Homo sapiens: one gene and its partners. The protein of the gene in region 4 purifies or fractionates together with the protein of the main gene of each other region. This does not show direct contact. Each region holds a gene or a part of one and is shown on either strand. Other genes may lie near its edges. The genes, in order: AZU1, TBC1D15, IPO11, AGFG1, GPN1, SUCLA2 and FLVCR1.

What was found.
Region 1: the proteins of AGFG1 (region 4) and AZU1 purify together in Homo sapiens (co-immunoprecipitation; one large-scale study listed by IntAct). This does not show direct contact.
Region 2: the proteins of AGFG1 (region 4) and TBC1D15 purify together in Homo sapiens (co-immunoprecipitation; one large-scale study listed by IntAct). This does not show direct contact.
Region 3: the proteins of AGFG1 (region 4) and IPO11 fractionate together in Homo sapiens (co-fractionation; one large-scale study listed by BioGRID). This does not show direct contact.
Region 5: the proteins of AGFG1 (region 4) and GPN1 fractionate together in Homo sapiens (co-fractionation; one large-scale study listed by BioGRID). This does not show direct contact.
Region 6: the proteins of AGFG1 (region 4) and SUCLA2 fractionate together in Homo sapiens (co-fractionation; one large-scale study listed by BioGRID). This does not show direct contact.
Region 7: the proteins of AGFG1 (region 4) and FLVCR1 fractionate together in Homo sapiens (co-fractionation; one large-scale study listed by BioGRID). This does not show direct contact.

What each region holds. Positions count from the first base shown.
Region 1 is NC_000019.10:826,541-830,636, reverse strand, and holds the start of AZU1 (azurocidin preproprotein), read right to left. Parts: upstream 2,801-4,096; 5' UTR 2,791-2,800; coding exon 2,733-2,790; intron 2,408-2,732; coding exon 2,251-2,407; intron 1,076-2,250; coding exon 931-1,075; intron 1-930. UniProt on the Homo sapiens protein: This is a neutrophil granule-derived antibacterial and monocyte- and fibroblast-specific chemotactic glycoprotein. Binds heparin.
Region 2 is NC_000012.12:71,842,759-71,846,258, reverse strand, and holds part of TBC1D15 (TBC1 domain family member 15), read right to left. Parts: intron 1-3,500. UniProt on the Homo sapiens protein: Acts as a GTPase activating protein for RAB7A. Does not act on RAB4, RAB5 or RAB6.
Region 3 is NC_000005.10:62,419,263-62,422,762, reverse strand, and holds part of IPO11 (importin-11), read right to left. Parts: intron 1-3,500. UniProt on the Homo sapiens protein: Functions in nuclear protein import as nuclear transport receptor. Serves as receptor for nuclear localization signals (NLS) in cargo substrates.
Region 4 is NC_000002.12:227,520,656-227,524,155, reverse strand, and holds part of AGFG1 (arf-GAP domain and FG repeat-containing protein 1), read right to left. Parts: intron 394-3,500; coding exon 231-393; intron 1-230. UniProt on the Homo sapiens protein: Required for vesicle docking or fusion during acrosome biogenesis. May play a role in RNA trafficking or localization.
Region 5 is NC_000002.12:27,635,550-27,639,049, reverse strand, and holds part of GPN1 (GPN-loop GTPase 1), read right to left. Parts: intron 841-3,500; coding exon 795-840; intron 166-794; coding exon 19-165; intron 1-18. UniProt on the Homo sapiens protein: Small GTPase required for proper nuclear import of RNA polymerase II (RNAPII). May act at an RNAP assembly step prior to nuclear import.
Region 6 is NC_000013.11:47,942,274-47,945,773, reverse strand, and holds the end of SUCLA2 (succinate--CoA ligase [ADP-forming] subunit beta, mitochondrial precursor), read left to right. Parts: intron 1-2,328; coding exon 2,329-2,403; 3' UTR 2,404-3,118; downstream 3,119-3,500. UniProt on the Homo sapiens protein: ATP-specific succinyl-CoA synthetase functions in the citric acid cycle (TCA), coupling the hydrolysis of succinyl-CoA to the synthesis of ATP and thus represents the only step of substrate-level phosphorylation in the TCA.
Region 7 is NC_000001.11:212,882,275-212,885,774, forward strand, and holds part of FLVCR1 (choline/ethanolamine transporter FLVCR1), read left to right. Parts: intron 1-1,096; coding exon 1,097-1,164; intron 1,165-3,018; coding exon 3,019-3,122; intron 3,123-3,500.

The DNA of each region.
Region 1 (4,096 bases), on a different chromosome or scaffold from region 4:
AAGTGTCAGCGACATTAACTGTAGTCTGTAAGTGGTTTGCGTTTAATTCCCGGCAGGGGCCGGGTGCGGTGGCTCACGCCTGTATTCCCAGCACGTTGCGAGGCCAAGGTGGGTGGATCACTTGAGGCCAGGAGTTCGAGACCAAACTGGCCAACAAGGTGAAACCCCCGTCTCTACTTTTTTAAATTTTTTAATGATATTTTTGAGATAATTTTATCATTTTCTCAAAGAAAAAAACCAAACATGAAAAACATTCACATGATTCTGTCATAGCAAAAGCATTTGAAAACGACGTCAGTCTCCACCAACAGGAGGCTCCATACGCGAACCGTGGTACATCTGTATGTGTTGCTGTATTGTTTTTGGAAGTTTTTTTTGAGATAGGGTCTGGCTCTGTTACCCAGGCTGGAGTGCAGGGGCGCGATCTCGGCTCACTGCAAGCTCCGCCTCCCGGGTTCAAGCGATTCTCCTGCCTCAGCCTCCTGAGTAGCTGGGACTAGAGGCGCCCGCTGCCATGCCTGGCTAATTTTTGTATTTTTAGTAGAGATGGGGTTTCACCATGTTGGCCAGGCTGGTCTCAATCTCCTGACCTCGTGATCCGCCCACCTCGGCCTCCCAAAATGCTGGGATTACAGGCATGAGCCACCTCACCCGGCAAGATACACACACACACACACACACACACACACACACACACACATATATATTTTTGTAGAGACTGAGTTTGGCCATGTTGCCCAGGCTGGTCTCGAACTCCTGACCTCAAGCCGTCCTTCCGCCTCGGCCTCCTGAAGCACAGGGGCCACAGGTGCGCGCCACCACTCCCGGCTAATTTTTGTATTTTTTTGTAGAGACCAAGTTTGGACTTGTTTCCCTGGCTAACGTCGGCCTCCCGAGGTGCTGGGATCACAGGTGGCACCATCCTCTCACCTGAAGCAGCATCAGGTCGTTCAGGTTCTGCTGGGGGTCGTAGCCATTCTCGCTCATGCTGCTGATGGAAAACGTCTGGCGGGACTGCCTCTCCCGCCGCCTCAGGTCATAGGCACCCAGCACCACGGTGCTAACCCCGGGGTTCCTGAGAGTAGCGGAGGAAAGGGCAGAGGGAGGACACCAGGCTGGGGCCTGGGCACAGAGCAAGCCGGCTTGCAAATTAGGGGGGATCCCAGCCTGCAGACTGCAATCCTTCACCCTGAAAACTCCCCCGCTTTTACAGAAGCAGAGCCGAGACTTTCCAGGGCCCCCTTCCCATCTTGAGCCCCTTCCCTTCTCTGCGCCTCCTCCTCCATCTGAGCCCCTTCTCTTCTCTGCGCCCCCTCCTCCATCTGAGTCCCTTCCCTTCTCTGAGCCTCCTCCATCTGACCCCCTCCCCTTCTCTGCACCTCCTCCATCTGAGCCCCTTCCCTTATCTGGGCCTCCCCCATCTGACCCCCTTCCCTTCTCTGCACCTCCCCCATCTGACCCCATTCCCTTATCTGGGCCTCCCCCATCTGACCCCCTTCCCTTCTCTGCACCTCCTCCATCTGACCCCCTTCCCTTCTCTGCGCCTCCCCCATCTGAGCCCCTTCCCTTCCCTGGGCCTCCCCCATCTGACCCCCTTCCCTTCTCTGCCCCTCCTCCATCTGAGCCCCTTCCCTTCCCTGGGCCTCCCCCATCTGACCCCCTTCCCTTCTCTGCACCTCCTCCATCTGACCCCCTTCCCTTCTCCGCACCTCCTCCATCTGAGGCCCTTCCCTTCTCTGCACCTCCTCCATCTGAGGCCCTTCTCTTCTCTGCACCTCCTCCATCTGAGCCCCTTCCCTTCTCTGCACCTCCTCCATCTGAGCCCCTTCCCTTCTCTGGGCCTCCCCCATCTGACCCCCTTCCCTTCTCTGCACCTCCTCCATCTGAGCCCCTTCCTTTCTCTGGGCCCCCTCCTCCATCTGAGCCCCTTCCCTTCTCTGGGCCTCCCCCATCTGACCCCCTTTCCTTCACTGCACCTCCTCCATCTGAGCCTCTTCCTTTCTCTGGGCCTCCTCCATCTGACCCCCTTCCCTTCTCTGGGCCTCCTCCATCTGAGCCCCCCAATATCCTTGGGTCCCTCCTCAACTCAGTCCCCATTTCCCTCTCCAAGCCCCCTCCTTTCCCTGAGCCCCTCCTTTTGCAATCCCCTCCCCTCCTCACCTACCAAGCACCCCCACTGAATGCCTAAGCCCCCCAAGCCCCTTCTCTGAGCCCCAATGCCCCCTAGGCCCCCTCCCCAGGACCCCTCACTGGCTTTGGAAGCAGCTGGCCGCGGTCATCACGAAGCGGGCATGGATCAGGGCACCCCCGCAGAAGTGCCTGCCTTGATTCTGAATGGAGGCCAGGAACGGGAACTGGCGGGGCCTCGCCTTCCGGCCGCCAACGATGTCCAAAAGGGGGCTGGAGCCTGGGTCGGGGGGAGACAGCTCTGAGATCCCCAAGAATCCACACAGTGGCCGGGAGGGCGTGTGAAGCTGCAGCCTCAGCTCTATCCACCCAGTGGGGCTGCGGGGGGACCCACCCTCCCCCATCGTCCCACTCCCTAAGAGGACAGGGGGCCCCTGAGTCCCGCACACCGTCCGCCCTCACGCCTTTCGCGGGATCGTCCAGGCCGGGCTGGCTGTGTGACCCAGGCCAAGCCGCTTGCCTTCTCTGTGCTTTAAGTCTGAGTTCTGCCCTGGCAGCCGGGCCCTAGCACAGATGGGGGACCACCGGCACAGAGAGGCACTCACCGGCCCTCGAGGACGCCAGCAGACCAGCCAGCAGGGCCAGGACTGTCAGCCGGGTCATGGCGGGGCAGGTCTGTGGCTAAGGCGGCGGCTGCCCTTATACACAGGCCTTGGCAGTTGGTGGCGTCCCCGCCCAGGCCCAGGGACAGCCCCACTCAGTGGGAACACGGGAAATTGCCCAAGGCCTCCACCGCCAACTGCTCCCTGGGCCAGCCTGGGCTCCCCCTACATTCTGCACTGATCCTCAGTTTCCCTCTCTAGAAGATGGCCACACCCCCAGGGGCAGGTGAGGGTGTCAGGAACCAGTGGATCCCGGAGCCCAGCACATGGCGGGCATGCAGCCAGCACCCAGGAACATTGCCAGCTCAGAGTCCCAGTCTCCCCATCCCAAGCCACTGGGGCTCCAGCACTGCCCGCTGGGCCTGGCACCGGGGGGCTCAGGGCAGTGGAGCTGGCAGTCCTGCGTTGAGTCCTGCGCGTCTGTATGGGTGATTATTATTATTATTATTATTATTATTATTTTGAGACGGAGTTTCGCTCTTGTTGCCCAGGCTGGAGTGCAATGGTGTGATCTCGACTCACTGCAACCTCCGCCTCCCAGGCTCAAGTGATTCTCCTGTCTCAGCCTCCTGAGTAGCTAGGATTACAGTTGTCCACCACCACGCCTGGCTAATTTTTTGTATTTTTAGTAGAGATGGGGTTTCACTATATTGGCCAGGCTGGTCTCAAACTCCCGACCTCAGGTGATCCACCCACCTCGGCCTCCCAAAATGCTGGGATTACAGGTGTGAAACACTGTGCCCGATTGGGTGATTTTTTTAAACTTTTTCAACAGCTTTATTGAGATATAATTGACAAGCTGGGTGCGGTGGCTCACACCTGTAATCCTAGCACTCTGGGAGGCCGAGGCAGGCAGATCACCTGAGGTTGGGCGTTCAAGACCAGCCTGACCAACATGGAGAAACCCCATCTCTACTAAAAATACAAAATTAACTGGGCGTGGTGGCACATGCCTGTAATCCCAGCTACTCAGGAGGCTGAGGCAGGAGAATCACTTGAACCTGGGAGGCGGAGGTTGCAGCGAGCCGAGATCGCACCATTGCACTCCAGCCTGGGCGACAAGAGCAAAACTCCATTTCAAAAAAAAAAAAGAAATTAGCTGGGCGTGGTGGCGGGCGCCTATAGTCCCAGCTACTTGGGAAGCTGAGACAGGATAATCGCTTGAACCTGGGAGGTGGAGGTTGCAGTGAGCCGAGATTGCGCCACTGCACTCCAGCCTGGGTGACACAGAGAGACTCCGTCTCAAAAAAAATAAATAAAAACAAATTAAAAACTATATAAAAATAAATAGACGAAATGTCCAGAAC
Region 2 (3,500 bases), on a different chromosome or scaffold from region 4:
TATAAAACTTCCAATGATGGCCTGCTGAAAGCAACAGAAACTGTATTTTGTTTTTCTCCTCTAGCAAAGGAGCTATGTCAGATATACCTTATTAAAAGAGTTCTGGTGACCACAGCAAACATTTTAGAATAAATTTTCTCACCTCTAATTTAGCAAAAGTTTTAATTAAAAAGCAAAAATGAGGCAGAAAAACAGATAAATTCAACTTTTAGACAGAATGAACTTTTGCACAATCCAACTCAAGAACATCCTTCCTGACACAAAGAGCTGGAAAAAATAAGGAAGTTTCACAATACAGTAGTAATTTTTTATACTGTCCCTACACTTAATACTGAATTTTTACTTATATTATGATTATTATAATTTTTATTTATTTCCAAAAATGGAAGATAAAGGAAAAATTCAACCCAAATATTTTAAATGTAGCAGTAAGTTCAGGGTAAAATTATTGCCCTAAATCATTCTCCAAACTTGGAAACCCATCACCTATCATACACAACATGCATTCTTAACTTTAGCAATTATGTGAACTTACAGGCTAATATAACAACCAAAAAAGGTACAAAAGTTCAGTTTCTTTCAAAACTATTTGGCATACAGATGATAATTTGAGCATATGGTTCCAGAAAGCATCCCCAGGAAATGCGAGACTGAGCATCCTAATGGGCTCCACACCCAAATATCTAAGCACCTACTTGGTATCTCCATTTCAATAAGGCATCTTAATCTCATGTGTTCTATCTAAACCTGCTCTTCTTCTATATTCCCAATTCTGTCAAAGATATCTCATCCACCCACTTATTCTAAATGCTTCTTTCACCATCCAGACCCTATAACCTAAGTCCCTCGAACCTTCTCCTCTGACACTGGCCCCTTATCATTTCTAGCCTAAGTCACTAAAATAACATTCTGATCTCTCTTCTTCTGATCTAGTCACCTTCCAATAATCTGCCTAAGGTGCATAATGTATAACCACTGCCCAAACTAACCTTTACAAAATGTCCATCTGGTTATACCACACAGGGGCTTAAAAATCTTCTGACTTCACCCTTTACCTCTACAGTGAGGCTATACTTCCTGATACTCCCCAACACATAAAACATTTCTGCCTTGGGCCATTGTGAACTCTGTTACCCAAAAGCTTTGTACCTTTTTTCAGGTGTATTCTGTTCCATCTACCTGGAACACCCTTTTATCCTTTCTCTCTGCAAATAACTTCTACTAAATCCTTCAGAAAAGAACATAAGCAATAGCCTGCCCAAATTCTTTGAACTACTCTCCATTCCACTTAATCTGATTTAGAAGTTTCTTTACTCATGCATTCAGCACATTTATGAGCACCAACCACATGCTGGAAATAAAAGGTGTCAGTGGCAAAAACACACACAAGGAAAAGTGTCTGACTAAACTAGCAGTATTATGTAAGCCAGTAAATCAATGTATATAGTAGAGTGTAATAGAGGAATGCAGAGAATCCTGAATGAGGTACCATTTTCAGTTACTTCTTCAATAAATATACAGTAAACGCCTACCATGTGCCAGGTACAGAGCAAGCTACTAGGTGTAAATAAGTAAGATTCAGTCACTGCCTCCACAGCAGTTACAATCTAATGGGATGACAAGAAAACAGACAATTACAACATGTAATTGTACCAACAGGCTGCCACAGCAAGCCCTAATAAATGCTATCTTACCTAGATTTAGGAGGCTCAGGCAGAGTGAGAATCAGGAAAACTTACTTAGAGCGACATATAAACTGAGATCTAAATAATGGCAATTTTAATTAGTAGAGGGTATAGGGAAGCAGAGGATATATGTTCTTAGCAGAGGATATATTTTATACAGAGCAGTAGTTCACTGCATGATTGAAACCCAAATACCAGAGAGTAGAGTCTAAATAGTTTAGAAACAAAAACAGAGACCAGATCAGATCATAAAGGGCTGCATAAGCCATGCTAAAGAATTTAGGAGTTTGAAATTTATCCTGAAGACAGACAAACGCAACTAGAAATTTGCCTTTTCTAAGCCAATAAAGTGGCTGCAGGGCCAAGAACGAACAGCTGCAGTAATCCAGAGAGGGAGAGACTCATGGTTGCTTGAACTAAGGCAATGGTAGTGGGGATGAGGAAAGGCAGATGGCTTAGAAAGATATTTAGAAGATCAAAATGACAAGACTTCATGACTGATTAGATGTGAGAGGTGAAGGGGAGAACAGTCAAGGACAAAACTGTGTAGATGAGGTTATTTACTGAGAGGGAGAACAGAAAGAAGAAAGCTGAGTTTTATTTGGGATGTGTTAATGAGTAATGACTATGGAACTAAAAAAAATGCACAATACAGGTGGTTGTAAGGGCAATACATCACAGATAGTCTGAAGTGAAGAATGTTTTGAGATATAGAGAATGGTACAACTCTCAAGGAAGAGCAACTGGCAGAACTATTATTGCTTCTCAAGGATATTGGTGTGCCAAGCGAAGTCAGATAGGAGACGTGAATAATTTAAGAGTTGGAGGAGATACACAGTCAGCGCTGCAATGAACCATGATCACACCACTGCACTCCAGCCTGGGTGACAGAGCAAGACTGTCCCAAAAATAAATTAACAATAATAATAATAATAATACAAGTCTGTGTTTAACCACCCTTGTATCCAAAGAACTCAGCACATAGGAGGTACTAAAACGTTTGTTGAACTAAAGAATGCCAGAAAAATTTAAAAATAAGACATACTCCTATTATACCCTAGTTAACTACCATGTTAAAAGATCCAGTCTAGGAAAACAAGTCTCCAGGAAAATCTAGATACTAAGAATATTCATCTTTCTAAAGCACAAAAATTTTATAGGACTATGAGCATATTTAAAAAGAATTGGTTAGGGCCAATTTTAAGCTACAAAATAAATTGTTACTAAAAATGACATCACAAATTCTAATTAAGAAAAAAAAACAGCTGATTTCCCTATTGTTTCAAGTAATTTTCTTTTTCATTTTTTGAAACACAGTATGCCCTTCGCCCAGTCTGAACAAGTGGCACAATCTCAGCTCACTGCACTGGTTTCAAGCGATTCTCCTGCCTTAGCCTCCTGAGTACCTGGGACTACAGGCGTGTACCACCATGCCCGGCTTTTGTATTTTTAGTAAAGACAGAGTTTCACCATGCTGGCCAGGCTGGTCTCAAACTCCCGACCTCAAGTAATCCACCCACCTCAGCCTCCCAAAGTGATGATTACAAGCATGAGCCACCGTGCCCGGCCAGTAATTTTCAATAGAAAGAAATTCTAATACACTAACAGGAAAACCTAGAGTGAATGAAGTGTACTACAATAGGATTTTACAACTCTGAAACAAAAGAGCTATTAATGGACCCATTTCTCCCACTCTAATCCCTCCTCATTTTCTTTTTCTTTTCTTTTTTTTTTTTTTTTTTTGAGACAGGGTCTTGGTCTGTCACCCAAGCTGGAGTGCAGTAGCACCATCATAGCTCACTGCAGCCTCCAAGT
Region 3 (3,500 bases), on a different chromosome or scaffold from region 4:
AGGCAGACCTGTGAGAGGAAGACCTGTCCGAAAAACTTGAGTATTTCTGTCTCACCGGGAGTTTTTAGTAAAATGGCACTGATAAACTGCAATAAGTCTCTTGCCTGTTTGGTATATACAAGAGTTCCCCGTGACTAATCTCCCCCTAATAAGAAAAGTTATACATTATCCTAAACAATATTGACACCCCCTACCTGATCAGTGCCCAGCTGTGAGGTACCAACTACTGTCAACCATCACCCTCTGGTGTCTCCTTAGCTGAAAAACAAAAATACATGTCTGTACAAAACCCACTAAGGAACAGCAGTTATGCTTATTGCTTTTAAAGGTCCTTCTCTGGCTGGGCAGTGGCTCACACCTGTAATCCCAGCACTTTTGGAGGCCGAGGCAGGCAGATCACCTGAGGTCAGGAGTTTGAGACCAGCCTGGCCAACATGGTGAAACCCCATTTCTACTAAAAACACAAAAATTAGCTGAGCATGGTGGTGGGCACCTATAATCCCAGCTACTAGGGAGGCTGAGGCAGGAGAACTGCTTGAACCCAGGAGGTGGAGGTTGCAGTGAGCCAAGATGGTGTCACTGCACTCCAGCCTGGGCAACAAGCAAGATTCCATCTCAAAAAATAAATAAATAAAGTTCCTTCTTGGATATGAAAAAAAATAGGAAGGAAAAGCTATAAAACTGATTTTGATTAAGGCACTGAATAGAGATAACAACACAGCCTAGATTAAATTTAACAGACTATAATTTATAACTAGCAGTTAGGCAAAACTTTTTGCTGAGTGTAAGAGATCATCAGTCCTCTCTCCAAATATAGACATCTTCGATTGGTAGTTTCCATTTACTGGTTGAAGACATCACTGTCTATAAAGCTGTATCTTATAAGAATCTCATTCTTGCTATAAAGAGCTCAGCCTGTCATTGTATTTATAAAAACCCATTTGTTCAAACATGCATGTGCTGTATGCCAAGTAATAATCCCACAGTTAATCACTATTCTACATTTTATCATTAAAATAATTTTTCTCTCAGTTGTGAGTCCATATAAGTTAACAAGTAAATAAATATAATTTTCCTATCACCTTGGAGCCACCCATATCAGTTCTCTACACAGTTTAAGTATTTTGTTTTACTGACCAAGACACTGTGGCCAAAAGATAAGGAGATAAACTGACTTCTCTAAGGTCACAGGCTCATTAGTGACATTTCTAGAACTTTAAATGTAAGTCTCCTGTCCCCACCCAGTACTCCCGAAAGATTAAACACTTTTACTTTTGTTCAGTGCTGTCCATTAATATCTCAAGTGAAATTAACTGGGAATTTTTAGCTTTAGACTTGAGAAAGAACAAAAATACATCAAGTTCACAGCCTATCTGCCTAATGAATTATACTACATCAGAACTGAAGACTGAAATTGATGGAGTCATTGAAGATACCCTACACAAGGTTAACAAGGTGAAGATTAAGAGAAGAAATGTTATTAATACATAACTAAAACAAAGGTGTATTATACAGAATATACAAGGAACCCTTGTGAATCAACAAGACAAATATATAAGAAAAGTGAACAAAGGGTGTAAGCAGAAAATATATAGAAAAGAAGAGCTAAATGTTTAATTAATATCAGAAGAGATGCTATCTCACTGGTTATCAGGGATTTAAAATCCAAACAGTGAAAAACTACTTTATGATCAGACTAGCAAAAATTACAAAGTCCAAAAATATTCAATGCTGGCAAGAATGCATGGAAACAGAAACTCTTAAACACTGCTACTGGGAATATCTATTAATACAACTTTGGAGAGCTATCTAGCTGTCTCTAATGAAATTGAGTATATATTTTGTGTATTCTATGACCAGGACACACAGAGGGTCACACACCACATAAAAATGGCGGCTCACGCCTGTAATCCAACACTTTGGAAGGCTGAGGCGGGTGGATCACTTAGAGTGCAGGAGTTCAAGACCAGCCTGGGCAACATGGAGAAACCCCATCACTACTAAAAAAACAAAAAGTTAGCTGGGCATGGTGGGGCACACCTGTAGTCCCAGCTACTCAGGAGGCTGAGATGGGAGAATCACCTGAGCCCAGGAGGTCAAGGCTGCAGTGAGCCACGATCGTGCCACTGCACTCCAGCCTGGGTGACAGAGTGAGACCCTGTCTCAAAAAAAAAAAAAAAAAGTTTCAGTCAGATATGGACCACATATATACGACAGTGATCCCGTAAGATTTTAATGGAGCTTTAAAATTCCTATCACATAGTGACATCATAGCCATCCTAAGTCGTAGTAAATCACATTACTCACACGTTAGTGGTGATGCTGGTGTAAACTAACCTACTGCACTGCCATTTGTATAAAAGCAGAGCACATACAATTAGGTACAGTACATAACACTTGAAAGTGATAATAAGCAACTATGTTACTGGTTTATGCATTTACTACATTATACTTTTTTTTTTTTTTTTTTTGAGACGGAGCTTCACTCTTGTTGCCCAGGCTGGAGTGCAGTGGTACGATCTTGGCTCACTGAAACCTCCATCGCCCGGGTTCAAGCAATTCTCCTGCCTCAGCCTCCCAAGTAGCTGGGATTACAGGTGTGTGCCACCACGCCTGGCTAATTTTTGTATTTTTTTAGTAGAAACAGGGTATCACCATGTTGGCCAGGCTGGTCTCAATCTCCTGACCCCGTGATCCACCCGCCTTGGCCTCCCGAAGTGCTAAGATTACAGGCGTGAGCCACCACGCCCAGCCTACTTTTTTTAAGAGTTACGATCTCTGTCACCTGAGGTAGAGAGCAATGCCGGCATCATAATTCACTACAACGTTGAACTCTTGGGCTCAAGCAGTCATTCCACCTCAGCCTCCTGAATAGTTGAGACTTGGGACTACAGGGATGAGCCATCATGCCATGCTAATTTTTTTACTTTTTGTAGAGATGGGGTCTGGCTATGTTGCCCTGGCTGATTTCAAACCCCAGACCTCAAGCAATCCTCCCACCTCAGCTTCCCTAAACCCTGGGATTACAGAAGTGAGCCACCAAGCCCCACTACTATACTTCTTATCATAATTTTACAATGTACTACTCCTATTAAAAAAAAAAGTTAACTGTAAAACAGCCTCAGACAGGTCCTTCAGGAGATAATTCAGAAGAAGTCATTGCTATCATAGAAGATGACAGCTCCATGAATGTTATTGCCCCCGAAGACCTTCCAGTGAGACAAGATGTGGAGGTGGAAGACAGAGATATTGATGATCCTGACCTTGTGTGTACCTGAGTTAATGTGTGTGTTTGCGTCTGTTTTAAACAACGTAGAACTACACAATGTATTTGTGTTTTAAGCTAAGTGTTACTGCAACAGAGACAAAAAGTTTATAAACTAAAAGTTACAATAAGCTAAGATTATTGAAGAAAAAAATTTCTTAATAAATTTATTTTAGCCTAAGTGTACAATAATGCCCTAGGCCTTCACTTTCACTCACCACTCACTCACTGATTC
Region 4 (3,500 bases):
CTTTACAAAGTTGCAGAGAAGTCAAAGAAACTCATATTAGCAATAGCAAAAAGAACAAGTATATATACATTTCAACCACTTAACCAACAATTTCTTAATGTATAACAAACCATTGGAACATAATGCTACTGGCATACAAGATTATGCTGCTGTCTTAAACAATTCTCAAATTCTTGATACTCAAGCCCTCTTTAAGTCGAATTCCCTACAAAGATTCAAAGACTACTCACCTGACTAGGTGTGCCCTTATTTAAGTGCAGTGTTGGTGCAGAATCCCCTAAAAGAGATTTCAGTGGTTTGACCTCAGGTGTGCTGCTTGTGCTACTGGCAGAGGACCCTGAAATAGATGCATGAACTGATGCCACGACTTTGGCTTGTTCTGGCGGGACATACCTAAAACATGTAAAAAACAGTTAACTAAAAAAAAATGTAGGTAATTCTATATCAAAAAATGATAAGCTTAATTCTAACTTTGTACAAGATTGTTTCACCATTAATCTTATCTGAAAACCCTCTCACACAGAATAACTTTGCATATTTTTTAAAAAAGGAACGACAGCTTAAGACTACACCCATTAAATATTTGAAATACTCAGAGAAAAGAGAAGACTAACCACAAAACTTGTTTCAATTACTTATTTATGGTTTTTCTAAGATATTAAGTACAATATAAGAAATAACTGCTTTTTTTAAACAGAGGACCTACAATTAGTCATCACCATGAATAGTTCATACTATAATTTTTAAAATTATCTTAAGATCTAAATAACATTTGAAGAAAGATGAGGTAGGAAAACATTTGTAATATTACAGTTAACAGCCTAAAATATAAAGGCTTATTACATCTGTAAGAATAAGATCATCCCATTTTAAATGAACAAAAGAAGCAATTCACAGAAGACAGGAGACACAAAAATGAAAACACTTTTAACCTGACAAAAATGCAAATTAAGGTTTTATTCACCTATGAGCTAAGTGTGAACTTTACAATTTTTTATTGCTACCTACTAAAATATATAAATAGGTGTGCTTTGTGCACCAGAAGTGCCACTTCCAGAAACATCCTTAAGAATTGGTAAGTGTATACAGATGCATGTACACATGGATGTTAACCACAGTCCTCTCTTTATAATTTCACAAAAACTGGGAAACAAACCCAACATCTATCAAGGAAAAAAAATTTACGATAATACAATACTCATAGCTACTCTGCTTTGACATGGAAAGAGGAAACTTCACAGGTCTTTCAGATTTGATTCCAGTCATATAAACACATGATTTATGTGAGGAGGCGAGTCAAGAAAGGAGAGGTAGCAAGGATATAATAATGTCCAAACATAGGCAATCCTGACCTCTAGGTGTGGGATTATGTGAGAGCTTTTGCTCTTTGTAATTCTGGGTTTTGTCCTACCCTCCTTCTTATTCCCCATATGAAGTAGGTGAGGAAAGAAGGAAAACCATGCTTAAGAGCACCTGTTCCAGAGACAAGAGTTCAAATCCCAGCTCTACCACTAAATGGCTGTGAAACCTTGGGCAAACTATTAATACTTCAACTCTTTGTGCTTCCATTTTTTTCATTTATAAAATGGAGAGGCAGAGTTGCCTAGGTTTAAACAAGTTAACATTTGTAAAGCACTGAGAACAATTCCTGGTATACGTGTTAACTAAGTGTTCACTGTCACTAAACTACATAATAATCACAAACAACTGCTTTCAAGTAAATGGGAGAGATAAAAGATGTATGAGAATGAATACAAGAAGTTATATTTTCCCATAATTTAGCATACTACTAATACAAATTCTTCAGTATAGCCAAGTCTTATCAAAGGATAAAATCAAATGATAGTTATTGGTTCAAAAGACTCACCTGGCAAAGTAATATGCTACCATATTTTTACTATCAACCCACCTTCTAGGATTTTCTTCTTTCCTGAACTTAAATTTTACTGGTGTATTTTAATCTATTTTCATACCTGATGTCTTCTAGTATAACACAGAAAGTGATTTTGAGAACTGGTCAAAAGAACAGTTTCAAAATCCCTTTGGATAACACCATCATCACTGTTTTAAGTATAGTTACAGTGAGTATTTTTAGAGATGCTGCATCTGGATAGTGCTTATTCCATGTTAGAAACCAATTTCACTGCTTGCTAGCTGTATGTTACAGGTGTGCAGCAGTCTGGATTAAAAACATACAGGTCCTGGCCCTCTTAATGATGGTCACCTGTCCCACCACTTGAAGTCTCTATTTGTATAACTCTTATTATCCTGTTTCTCAGGAAAGAAAAAAAATAACATAAACTGTAATTATTTGAGGTTTCTAGGTATTTGCGTTATAGTTTGAATGAATAATACATTACTGTTATAAATGTGGGGGTAAGGATCTATGATTTTAATTCTACCAACTGTTACTCACACTCACTTTTCTGTTGATAGCTAGAGCTGACCATAAACTAATCCCTAACCAAACTCACTTTCTGAATTGGTAAAAGTAACACGGCTGAGAAAACAAAACTAGGTTAGGGCTATGTAAGGAGAACAGTCTTTCCTACAGGGTAGAATGTCTAGGAAATTCAGAACCAAAATGATAAAAGGATAATTATACCTTTCATTTTAAAAGAATCATTTATGCTACCATATTTTTACTACCAACCCACCTTCTAGTATTTTCTTCTTTCCTGAACTTAAATTTTACTGGTGTATTTTAATCTATTTTCATACTTGATGTCTTCTAGTACAGCTGAATATAGCCCTGACTAATCTTGCCTTGCAAAAAGTAGTCTATTTTAGGCCGGGCACAGTGGCTCACAACTGTAATCCCAGCACTTTGGGAGGCTGAGGCAGGTGGATCACCTGAGGTCAGGAGTTCAAGACCAGCCTGGCCAACATGGCGAAACCCTGTCTCTACTAAAAATGCAAAAAATTAGCCAGGCGTGGTGGTGGGTGCCTGTAATCCCAGCTACTTGGGAGGCTGAGGCATGAGAATTGCTTGAACCCAGGAGGCGGGGGTTGCAGTGAGCCGAGATCGCACCATTGCACTCCAGCCTAGGTGACAAAAGCAAAACTCAGTCTCCAAAAAAAAAAGAAAAATGTAGTCTATTTTGGAAAGTAGTAAGAATACAAATTTTGATAGAGCATGCAAGTCAGAGCTAATGTGCTCCTGAATGAAGGTAAAGACCTCTGCTGTAAACCACAACAAATGTTCCCTCAGGACCAAAACAGGCTCTGAACAGATTCTCTTGGGTTGAAACAGAGTTCCTCAAGCAAACAAGAAGCTCGTTACTTCCCCATTATTTATTCCCTCTATTTTGACTCTCTGCCCCATCTTGTTAACCTCCCAAGATGAAAGTATCCACTATGCAATACTATTAAAGAAATAACCAAAAGTTCATAGTTAATGAGTCTTAGTAACTTAAATTGTGCTCATATAGCTAAAAATGAAGAACCCTCAGTAGCTGAACACTAGCTTTATAGATATAGTCCCTATTCCATAGCAAGGG
Region 5 (3,500 bases), about 200 Mb from region 4:
GCAGGAGAGAAAATTTACCCTGAGTGAGCTGTAAAACTCATCTAACACCAGGCTCATTGAACGAGTCAGGTTACTGACGTATGTAGTCTCTTGATTCAAGGCATCTTGGAAAGCCTCAAAATCCTGCATCCATTCCACTGCAAAGCTGTGGTCAATGATGTCAGTCTGTACCAGAGAGAAGTCAATTATGAGCAACCAGAGCCAACAAACGCAAAATTTATTCTTTTAATTAAGTGTTGACAGCAAAGAACATATCATCCATATATTTTCTTTCTCTGCTTCTATTTCCCCTCCATTGCAACAAGCCACAAAGAACCACAATCATTGTGTAGTCAGTGTAATTAAATGAAGATGTGTATTCTCTTGGTTGACCCTCCACTATCCACTGCCAAGTACCAGGACCAGAATGGACACCAGCACATTCTAGGCTCTGAAGTCAAAAGGTCTCTTGCATCCTAGCCATCAACCAACAGAGAAGTTTAGAATTTTTTAATTGCCACTTCCAGTAGACTAGTTGTCCCTCTCGTAATTACACAATCTTGACTCTGAGGGATAATCTACATACTGTGGTTGAAGTGCTACTCTACCTAGCCTAAAATAATTTTAGACAAGAGTTGGTAATAATTGCTCATTCAATTTGATTGATTCATTTTCTCGAAGTGCCTATGAATTTGTTTCAGTAAAGCCTGAATCTGGTCTCCAGCATCTGAAATAATCTTTCTCACCCACCTAAACCTTCTAACCACAAGGTTCTGATGAAAAATGGTGAATCACAACAGGAAGAATACACTTACTTTATTCATGACCACAATGAAAGGCAGCTTGGTTTTGTATAAGATGCTGAAAACCAAACATTGAGAAGTTATTAGTAAAAGCACATAAGCTCTTGCTCATCCAGTGTCAGCATGTCGGGACTAAGTAAGAGAACAGAAATGAGTTCAGAATCTAAAAAGTAGTCATCCATTTTTACATAACATCATATAGTCTCTGCCAACAGGAAAACAACTACCACCCAGAAGCAACACACACACTCTCACTCTTGTTTGAAGTAATAATGCCTTAATATTGAACTTGTTTTTGTTTTGTTTTTTAACCAAATTGGTATTTTTCAGAGAAGGAAATGAACATTTACTGAATACCTATTACAGGTTGAGAATTTCCTATCTAAAATACTTGGGACCAGAAGTGTTTTTTATTTCAGATTTTGGAATATTTGTAAATACTTATTGGTTGAGCATCCCAAATCTGAAAATCCAAAATCCTCCAATAACCATTTCCTCTGAGTGTCATGTCAGTGTCTAGAATGTCTCACATTTTGGAGCATTTCAGATTTCAAATTTTTGGATAAGGGATGCTCAATCTGTATAGTCTAGGCACTGTGCTAATAAGCACTTTCATAAGTATTATCTCCTTTATTCTTTACAAATAACATGTAAATATATACAATTTTTATTTGTCAATTATACCTCAATAAGGCTGGGAAAAGAATATTAAAATTTTTTTCAATCTGTAAAGTAACATCTTAAAAATGTTTCTACCCCTACCTTTATTGAGGTATAGTTGACAAATAAAAATTATATATATTTAAGGTGTACAAAGGGATATTTTGATACACAGTTGACCCTTAAACAACATAGGTTTGAACTGCAAGGTTTACTCATATGCACCTTTTCTTCCACCTCTGCCACCCAGAGACAGCAAAACCCAACCCCTACTCTTAGACTACTCAAAGTGAAGACGATTAGGATGAAGAGTTTTATGACGATCTACTTCACTTAATGAACAGTTAATATATCTTCCCCTTATTTTCTCTAGCTTTATTATATGAATACAGCATATAATACATATAATATATATGTAATGTGTGTTAATCTACTGTTTATGTTACCAGCAAGGTTTCCAATCAACAGTAGGCCTTTAGTAATTAAGTTTGGGGGGAGTCAAAGTTTTATATTTTGTAGAGATGGGGTTTCACCATGGTGCCCCGGCTGGTCTCTGCAGGGGTTGGCGCCTCTAACCCCCAAATTGTTCAAGGATCAACTGTATGTTTCATCATGAAATGATTACCAGCTGGGGGTGTGACTCATGCCTGTAATCTGAGCACTTTGGGAGGCCACGCTGGGAGGACTGCCTGAGCCCACGAGTTCAAAACCAGCCTGGGCAGCATGGCGAGACCCCACCTCTAAAAATAAATTAATTAATTTTTTTAAAAAGAAATGATTAACACTATCAGGCAAATCAAATAATTTTCTTTTAAACAATTAATATGAAAATGGGCCAGGCACAGTGGCTCATGCCTGTATTCCCAGCACTTTGGGAGGCCAAGGCGGGCAGATCACTTGAGGTCAGGAGTTTGAGACCAGCCTGGCCAACAAGGTGAAACCCCGACTCTACTAAAAATACAAAATTAGCCAAGTGTGGTGACTACTCAGGAAGCTGAGGCAGGAGAATCACCTGAACCCAGTAGGCGGAAATTGCAGTACGGTGAGATTGTGCCACTGTACTCCAGCCTGGGTGACAGAGCAAGACTCCGTCTCGAAAAAATATAAATAAATAAATAAATAAATAATTAATATGAAAATGAAATAATGCTGTCAATCTTCAGATTTCTATTTGGATCACAATTTCTTGCATCCACCAAAAAGGGACATCCCTTGTCATATCAGAAAAGACAAATGTTGGTGATGGCATTTGTGTACCCTCAAAATTAAATTCTCTCAGCTTTAATAACTGTCAGCCTTGCTCCTCAGTCTTAATGCACTAATCTAGTGAGGCATGCCCTTCCTCTGCTAATGGTGCCACATTTGGGGCAAACCAGTGCATTTTATTTTTTTGAGACAGGGTCTCACTCTGTTGCCCAGCCTGGAGTACAGTGACATCATCACAGCTCACTCCAACCTTGGCCTCCCAGGCTCAAGCAATCCTTCCACCTCTGCCTCCCAGGTAGCGGGGATTACAGGCACACACCACCATCCCTGGCTAATTTTTTGTATATTTTGTAGAGATGGGGTTTCACCATGGTGCCCAGGCTGGTCTCAAACTCCTGGGCTCAGGCGATCCTCCCACCACAGCCTCCCCAAGTGCTGGGATTATAGGCATGAGCCACCATGCCTGGCCACCTGTGCATTTTACAATTATGGATAAATCTTCTTATTCATGGTATCTCCTCATGTTACAATTTCACTCTACCAGCATCATTTAGGCCAGAGGACTCTATTCTTCTCTCTCTCTCTCGTTGCCCCAGGCTCTTGTTGCCCCAAGCCGGAGTGCAGTGGCACAATCATGGCTCACTACAGCCTCAACCACCTGAGCTCAAGCAATCCTCCCACGTCAGCCTCCCAAGTAGCTGGGACTACAAGGGCGTGCCACCACGCTGGCTAATTTTAAAACATTTTTTGTAGAGACAGAGTCTTGCTATGTTCCCCAGCCTGGTTTCAAACTCCCAAGCTCAAACGATCCTCCCACCTTGGCCTCCCAAGTGTAGGGATGACAGACCCAGC
Region 6 (3,500 bases), on a different chromosome or scaffold from region 4:
TGGAATTTCTCATTTAAAATTTTTGGACCACAGTTGACTGCAGGTAACTGAAACTGTAGAAAGTGAAATTGGATAAGGGGGGGACTTTGTGTGTGTGTGTGTGTGTGTGTGTGTGTGTGTGTGTGTGTGTCTCCCTTTTCCCACTTTAGATTAATGGTAATCTATACTTTGTTTCTTTTACTTAACAATAATGTGTATCAGAGAACACTTCATAGTAGATACAGAGAGATGAGAATTTTTTGTCTTCCCTTCCATTATGTTTATAGACATTTCATTGAACACTCGAACACTCTTTGGGCTCTATAGCTTAATCAATAGTAGATTCTTGATTTTTTTTTTTTTTTTTTTTTTGAGACTGAGTCTTGCTCTGTCACCTAGGCTGGAGTACAGTGGCGTGATCTCAGCTCACTGTAACCTTTGCCTCCTGGGTTTAAGCAATTCTTGTGTCTCAGCCTTCTGAGTAGCTGAGACTACAGGTGTGTGCCACCACGCCCAGCTAATTTTTTTTTTTTTTTTTTTTTTTTAAGACAGAGTTTTGGTCTTGTTGCCCAGGCTGGAGTGCAGTGGTGTGATCTCGGCTCACTGCAACCTCCATCTCCCAGGTTCAAGCAATCCTCCTGCCTCAGCCTCCCAAGCAGCTGGGATTACAGGCATGTACCACCATGCCTGGCTAATTATGTATTTTTAGTAGAGATGCGGTTTCACCATGTTGGTCAGGCTGGTCTTGAACCCCTGACTTTGTGATCCACCTGCCTCGGCCTCCCAAAGTGCTGGGATTCAGGTGTGAGCCACTGCGCCCAGCCTTGTATTTTTAGTAGAGATAGGGTTTTGCCATGTTGACCAGGCTGGTCTCGAACTCCAGACCTCATATGATCCTCCCACCTCGGCCTTCCAAAGTGCTGGGATTACAAGCATGAGCCCCCAGGCTTGGCCAGACTCTTGAATTTACCGAGTTAATGTGATGTCATTTCACAAAAATAATAAAAGTCTTATGTCCTTCTTTGGGAAAGTACTTACTAGTAAACAAAATTTAACTCTAGCTTGGAGACAGAAGAATTTAAACTTAAACCTGAATTAAAAATAAAGAATTTGAGCAAGGGAATAGTAGGAGAAAGTATTTCAGAAAGCCTATTTTGACTTTGAGATGTGGGATATATTGAAGGGAAAAGGGGAGAGATAGTAGGAGTCCATCTAGTGCAATACTTAGATATGAGAAAAGGTGAAGGTAATAAATAGGTTATAACTTGTCTCTGAAAGTGCACTTTTTTGGAATGAAAACTTAAATTAAGAAAAGCTTGGAGGACATGAAAAGAAGGAGAAGAACCAGTAGGACCTTGATCAAATAGATCATGAGAGGTAAAAGTGAACAGTTGATTTAAATTATGACTACAGTGTTTTTATTGACTGGGAGATTATAGAAGTCATAACAATAATAATATTGAATGAGATGATGATGATATTAGCAGTTACTACTGTTTATTGAGTGTTTACTGTGCATGCAATGCTAAGCTGTTTTCTTCAAGGATTATCTCATTTAATATGAATTTGGTGATAAAATTTCCATTTTTATAGATGAAGAAACAGGCTAGATAAGTTAACTTATTCAAGGTTGTATGTCATAAGCATCAGAGGGGGGATTTGCAGCCAAAGATATCTAACTTCAAAGCCTTTTCTTAACTAATTTACTGAGGAAGAGAGAAGCTGAGTTTGTTTTTTTGGTCTTAGACATGTCTAAATTTGTATGATGTTTTGTATGGTAACTGGTGGATATTTTTAGACAGATTGTAGAGAGAATTGGAACTCAGGTTAGCAATTGTTAACTTACTGACAAAAAGTAAAATACTAACTAGTAGACCCAAATTTCTATCCCAACATTTTAAGTTAAGATTGTATACTTATTTCAAAACAAATTTTTACTTAGATGTGCTTTGAGTTGTGGAGTATCCAACAAAGACACTCACTGTTTCTGTCTTTAAGATAAAATTTAGAATAATATATATATATATACACACACACACACACACACACATACATACACACACATTTTATACACACATATATAATCTTATGTAATACATATGTGTAATCCTAGCAGGTGGTATAACATCTTAATCAGAAAGTATTTAATTGAAGTTTGGACTATGAGGAGTGTCAGACTTGATTATCCTTTGAGAATGTCATTTGCTTATAAGAACGTAATGTGATTTATAGCAATGTCAGAATAGTCCAGATGTTTTAAATGGAAAAAATTGAGTGTACATTAATTTTGCACTGACCTGTAGTTCTGAATTTACCTTTTTGTGAAAATTCTTCGTTCTTTTCTTTTAGGTTGTAAAGCTCTCTGAAATAGTGACCTTAGCGAAGCAAGCACATGTGGATGTGAAATTTCAGTTGCCAATATGATCTGAAAACCCAGTGGATGGCTGAAGGTGTTAAATGTGCTATAATCATTAAGAATACTGTGTTCTGTGTTATTGTTCTTTTTCTTTTTAGTGTGTGGAGATTGTAATTGCCATCTAGGCACACAAACATTTAAAAGGATTTGGACTGCATTTAATTGTACCATTCAGAATGGACTGTTTGTACGAAGCATGTATAATGCAGTTATCTTCTTTCTTTTGTCGCAGCCAGTCTTTTTTGCTTCTCCTACAAAACGTAACTTGCAATTTGCCAGTTTATTATTGTTGGATACAAAGTTCTTCATTGATAAGAGTCCTATAAATAAGATAAATACGAAGATAAAGCTTTATTCTTTAGTGTTAAAATACAGTATATCTAATAACTAGCCTCATTAGTAGAGCAGTATATTAAAACAATGTTTTATGTAAAAAGTGTTTATCTTCAGCACCAAATACATGATAAATGTATCAATCACTATTTATAAACAGAGCTTTCAAACACTCCTCAGAATATTCTTCTAAGTATTTTGATGAAGTAACTTTGTAATTATTTGAACATTGTTTTAATCATTAGGAAACACTGATTAACTGCAAGTCTTCATGATTCTGTCATATTAAGAAACACCTGTAGGTTTGCTTCAAATAAAGGCATATATACCAAGGACTTACAGACAAAATTAAGAATGTCAATTTAAGTTAATAAAAATCTCCCAATATGATTTGGGTTCATGGCTTTTGTTTGCTTGTTTTGAGGTAAACACAGTAGAAGTTGATTTGTTCGTTATTGCAGTATAGAGGTCTAAGCACCAATTCTTAGATCATATACTTGCCATGACAGTGATTTGTTTTTTTTTTTGAGTCAGGGTCTCACTCTGTCACCCAAGCTGGAGTGCAGTGGTATGATCATGCTCACTGCAACCTCTGCCTCCTGGGCTCAAGCAGTCCTCCCACCTGAGCCTCCTAAGTAGCAGGGACTACAGGCACACACCACAAAAAAACATATGTGTTTTTTTTTGTTTTTGATTTTTGTTTTTTTTTTGGTAGGGACAGGGTATCACTATGTTGCTTAGGCTGGTCTCTTACTCCTGAGCTCAAGCAATC
Region 7 (3,500 bases), on a different chromosome or scaffold from region 4:
TTAACATAATAGAATACTGTACAACAGAAAACTAATGAACTACAACAAAAAATATCAACATGGATACATCTCAAAACCATCTCAATATAGTGTAACAAGAGCAAGTTGCAGATGGATACAAATAATATTTATATACTTACAGAATACTTCTAATTGTTTATGAATATGCATATATGGTAATATATAAAATGATAAGCACCAAGCTCAAGCTAGGGCTTGACTTTGGTAAAGAATAGGATTGGGAAAAGTCTGAAAAATGAATCTGAAGCAAAGATGGAAAAATGTTAATGTTTGCCAAATCCGGGTGATATATGAGGATATTTGTTGTATTCTCTATGCTATTTTATATTCTTAAAATATTTAATAATAGATAAATAATAAACTTAAGTTTTAGCTTAATTTAGGTTAAGAGTCTTACCTAAATTCATACAATACATGCTAGGAGACATCAGGATTCAAACCTATCCTGTGCTTCTCATAGCCAGTTGTTTTTATTGTTCACTTCTAAAGTATCCTTTGGGAGGCGAGGCAGTAGAATTGCTTGAACCCAGGAGACGGAGGTTGTAGTGAGCTGAGATTGCACCACTACTCTCCAGCCTGGGCAACAGAGCAAGGCTCCATCTCAAAAAAAAAAGTATTAACTGATTTTGTCTTATGAATTTTCAGTAAGTCTTTGATACAAAAAGGTAAGATCTCTGAAGCACAGTTTCTGTTAGGCTTTGCACATTTGTTGGCTGTAGTAGTACATTGTAGGAATTCAGTAAACAATCCATTGCTTGACTGGTTGCCATATATGTGTTGCATGTGGGGGTATGATTTATGGTCAGTATATCTCAATCTAAATAATAATAGTATTAGGACAGAGTTCTGCTATTACATCTTTAGTACAGTTAGGTGTTAAATTCATTAGTCCAGGTTCTGAAAGGGAATGACAATGGTTTTTAATTTCCTTTATCAACTGTGTTAAGAAATGTATTTCCACAATTGTCACATAATATTCCATGTCACTTCATGAACTGGTAAATGACACACTTTTAGTATTCTCTTTATTATTGTAGGTATCATGACTTAATATCATCTTTATTTATTATTGTAGGTATCATGACTGGTGCCTTTTATTCAGTCTCAACGTTATTAAATCAAATGATATTGACATATTATGAGGTAAGCTTCTGCTTATATCAGATTGCATGCCTGGCCAAAAATTTTTCTTTAGCAATATAATTGTCGTTAGCAGGGTCATGAGATTAAGGGTTATGACATTGTTGCTATCAAATATTTACATTTGTTTTAATTGAGAATATATTTGTTAAAAAATGAAATTTCCACAACTTTATATATCTAATTGGCTTTTATTATCAATTCGTTTATTGGACAGCATCCCATCTAAAGATTTAGAAAGGTACTGATGAGCTGAGCAGAGGAGATGGGCTTTATAGGCAGAAAAAGGCTGAAGAAAGCAGAAACAAGGAACAAAGAGCAGATTGGTTGCTACAAAGTTACTTTCCTTATAGGAGTAAAACAAAGGGGACTGGGCCCCATCTGATAGGTTGCTATGAATCTCCTTTTTTTTTTTTTTTTGGAAAAGTGGCCCATTTTAAAGTTCAGTTTGATTATGTGACACCTAGCACTAGTGACACCATTCTATGTGGTCTGGTCTGTTGGGCCTACTGTGGGAGCTCACTCCAAAACAATGGCCTCCCATCATTTTAATTTAACATATTTAATCCAGTTTATAAAGCACATAGTATGGCCAGGCATAGTGGCTCACGCCTGTAATCCCAGCACTTTGGAAGGCCGAGGCGGGTGGATCACCTGAGGTCGAGACCAGCCTGACCGACATGGAGAAACCCTGTCTCTACCAAAAATACAAAATTAGCTGGGCATGGTGGCGCATGCCTGTAATTCCAGCTATTCGGGAGGCTGAGGCAGGAGAAACACTTGAGCCTGGGAGGTGGAGGTGGCGGTGAGCCGAGATCGTGCCATTGTATTCCATCCTGGGCAATAAGAGTGAATCCCCATTTAAAAAAAAAACAGGCTGGGCGCCGTGGCTCACACCTGTAATCCCAGCCAAGATAGCGCCACTGTACTCCAGCCTAGTGACAGAGTGAGACTCCATCTCAAAAAAACGAAACAAAACAAAATACACACACACACAATATGGAAAGCAGAAGTTACTATCCCTGTGACAATACCTAAGTTTATTTTTAGGAAATAATATGATTGGTTATATGGAAAAAGACAAAACATTTTAAGGGAACTCAGCATAAATATAGATAAATAAATATCAAGTTTTGATTGACGTATCTGCTTTTGAAAGGATAAAGCAGTTGTACTATGTAAAAGCTATCGATTAACCTCCTTTTCAGATATCTATACAGTGTCATACCTTGCTTAGTGACAGGAATACCTTCTGAGAAATTCGCTAGGCAATTTCATTGTTGTGTGAATATCATAGAGTGTACTTACGCAAACCTGATGGTAGAGCCTGCTACATACCTAGGCTACGTGGTATAGCCTATTGCTCCTAGGCTACAAACCTGTATAACATGTTATGCTACTGAATGTTGTAGGCAGTTGTAATACAATGGTAAGTATTGTGTATCTAAATATATCTAAACAGAGAAGGTAGAATAAAAATACAGTATTATAATCTTACAGGATCATACTGTATATATGATTCAGAGTTGACCTAAATGTAATTATGGAGCACATGACTATCTATACTTAAGAATCCTAACAAAAATCATTGTACTTCTAACCATAGAGGATTAAGGAAAATTTACCTTTTTTATTTCTTCTATTATTTTAGGCTTTTTTTCTGGTTTTAAAATATAATGCTTTTATATATTCTTTACCTGCCCTCCCCTCCCACACTGACACATGTACTAAATCTTCCTACTGTGTGCTTAGTTTTATCTAATTATTTTCATTGACTATGAAAAGGTGTGGGAATGTGAAGAGTCTGAATTAGTTAATCCATTTATTTGATCAACTTCTTACGCAAATTTTTTTCAGGGAGAAGAAGTCAATGCTGGAAGGATTGGGCTAACGCTAGTAGTAGCTGGAATGGTGGGCTCTATTCTTTGTGGCTTATGGCTGGATTATACTAAAACATACAAGTAAGTGAAAGTAAATACATGTATGGTGTATAACCAAAGGTATTTTGATTTTAAAGGACAATTTGCTTTTTATTTCAAGAAATTTAAAACATGTTATTACTTAAAGATACGGATTCTAAACACTAGTAGGTTCTCTTCACTTAACAAGTGTTTCTTTTTTTTTTTTTTTTTTGAGACGGAGTCTCGTTCTGTCGCCCAGGCTAGAGTGCAGTGGCGCAATCTCGGCTCACTGCAACCTCTGTCTCCCGGCTTCACGCCATTTTCCTGCCTCAGCCTCCCGAGTAGCTGGGACTACAGGCACCCGCCACCATGTCCGGCTAATTTTTTTATATTTTTAGTAGAGACGGGGTTTCACCTTGTTAGCCAGGATGGTCTCGA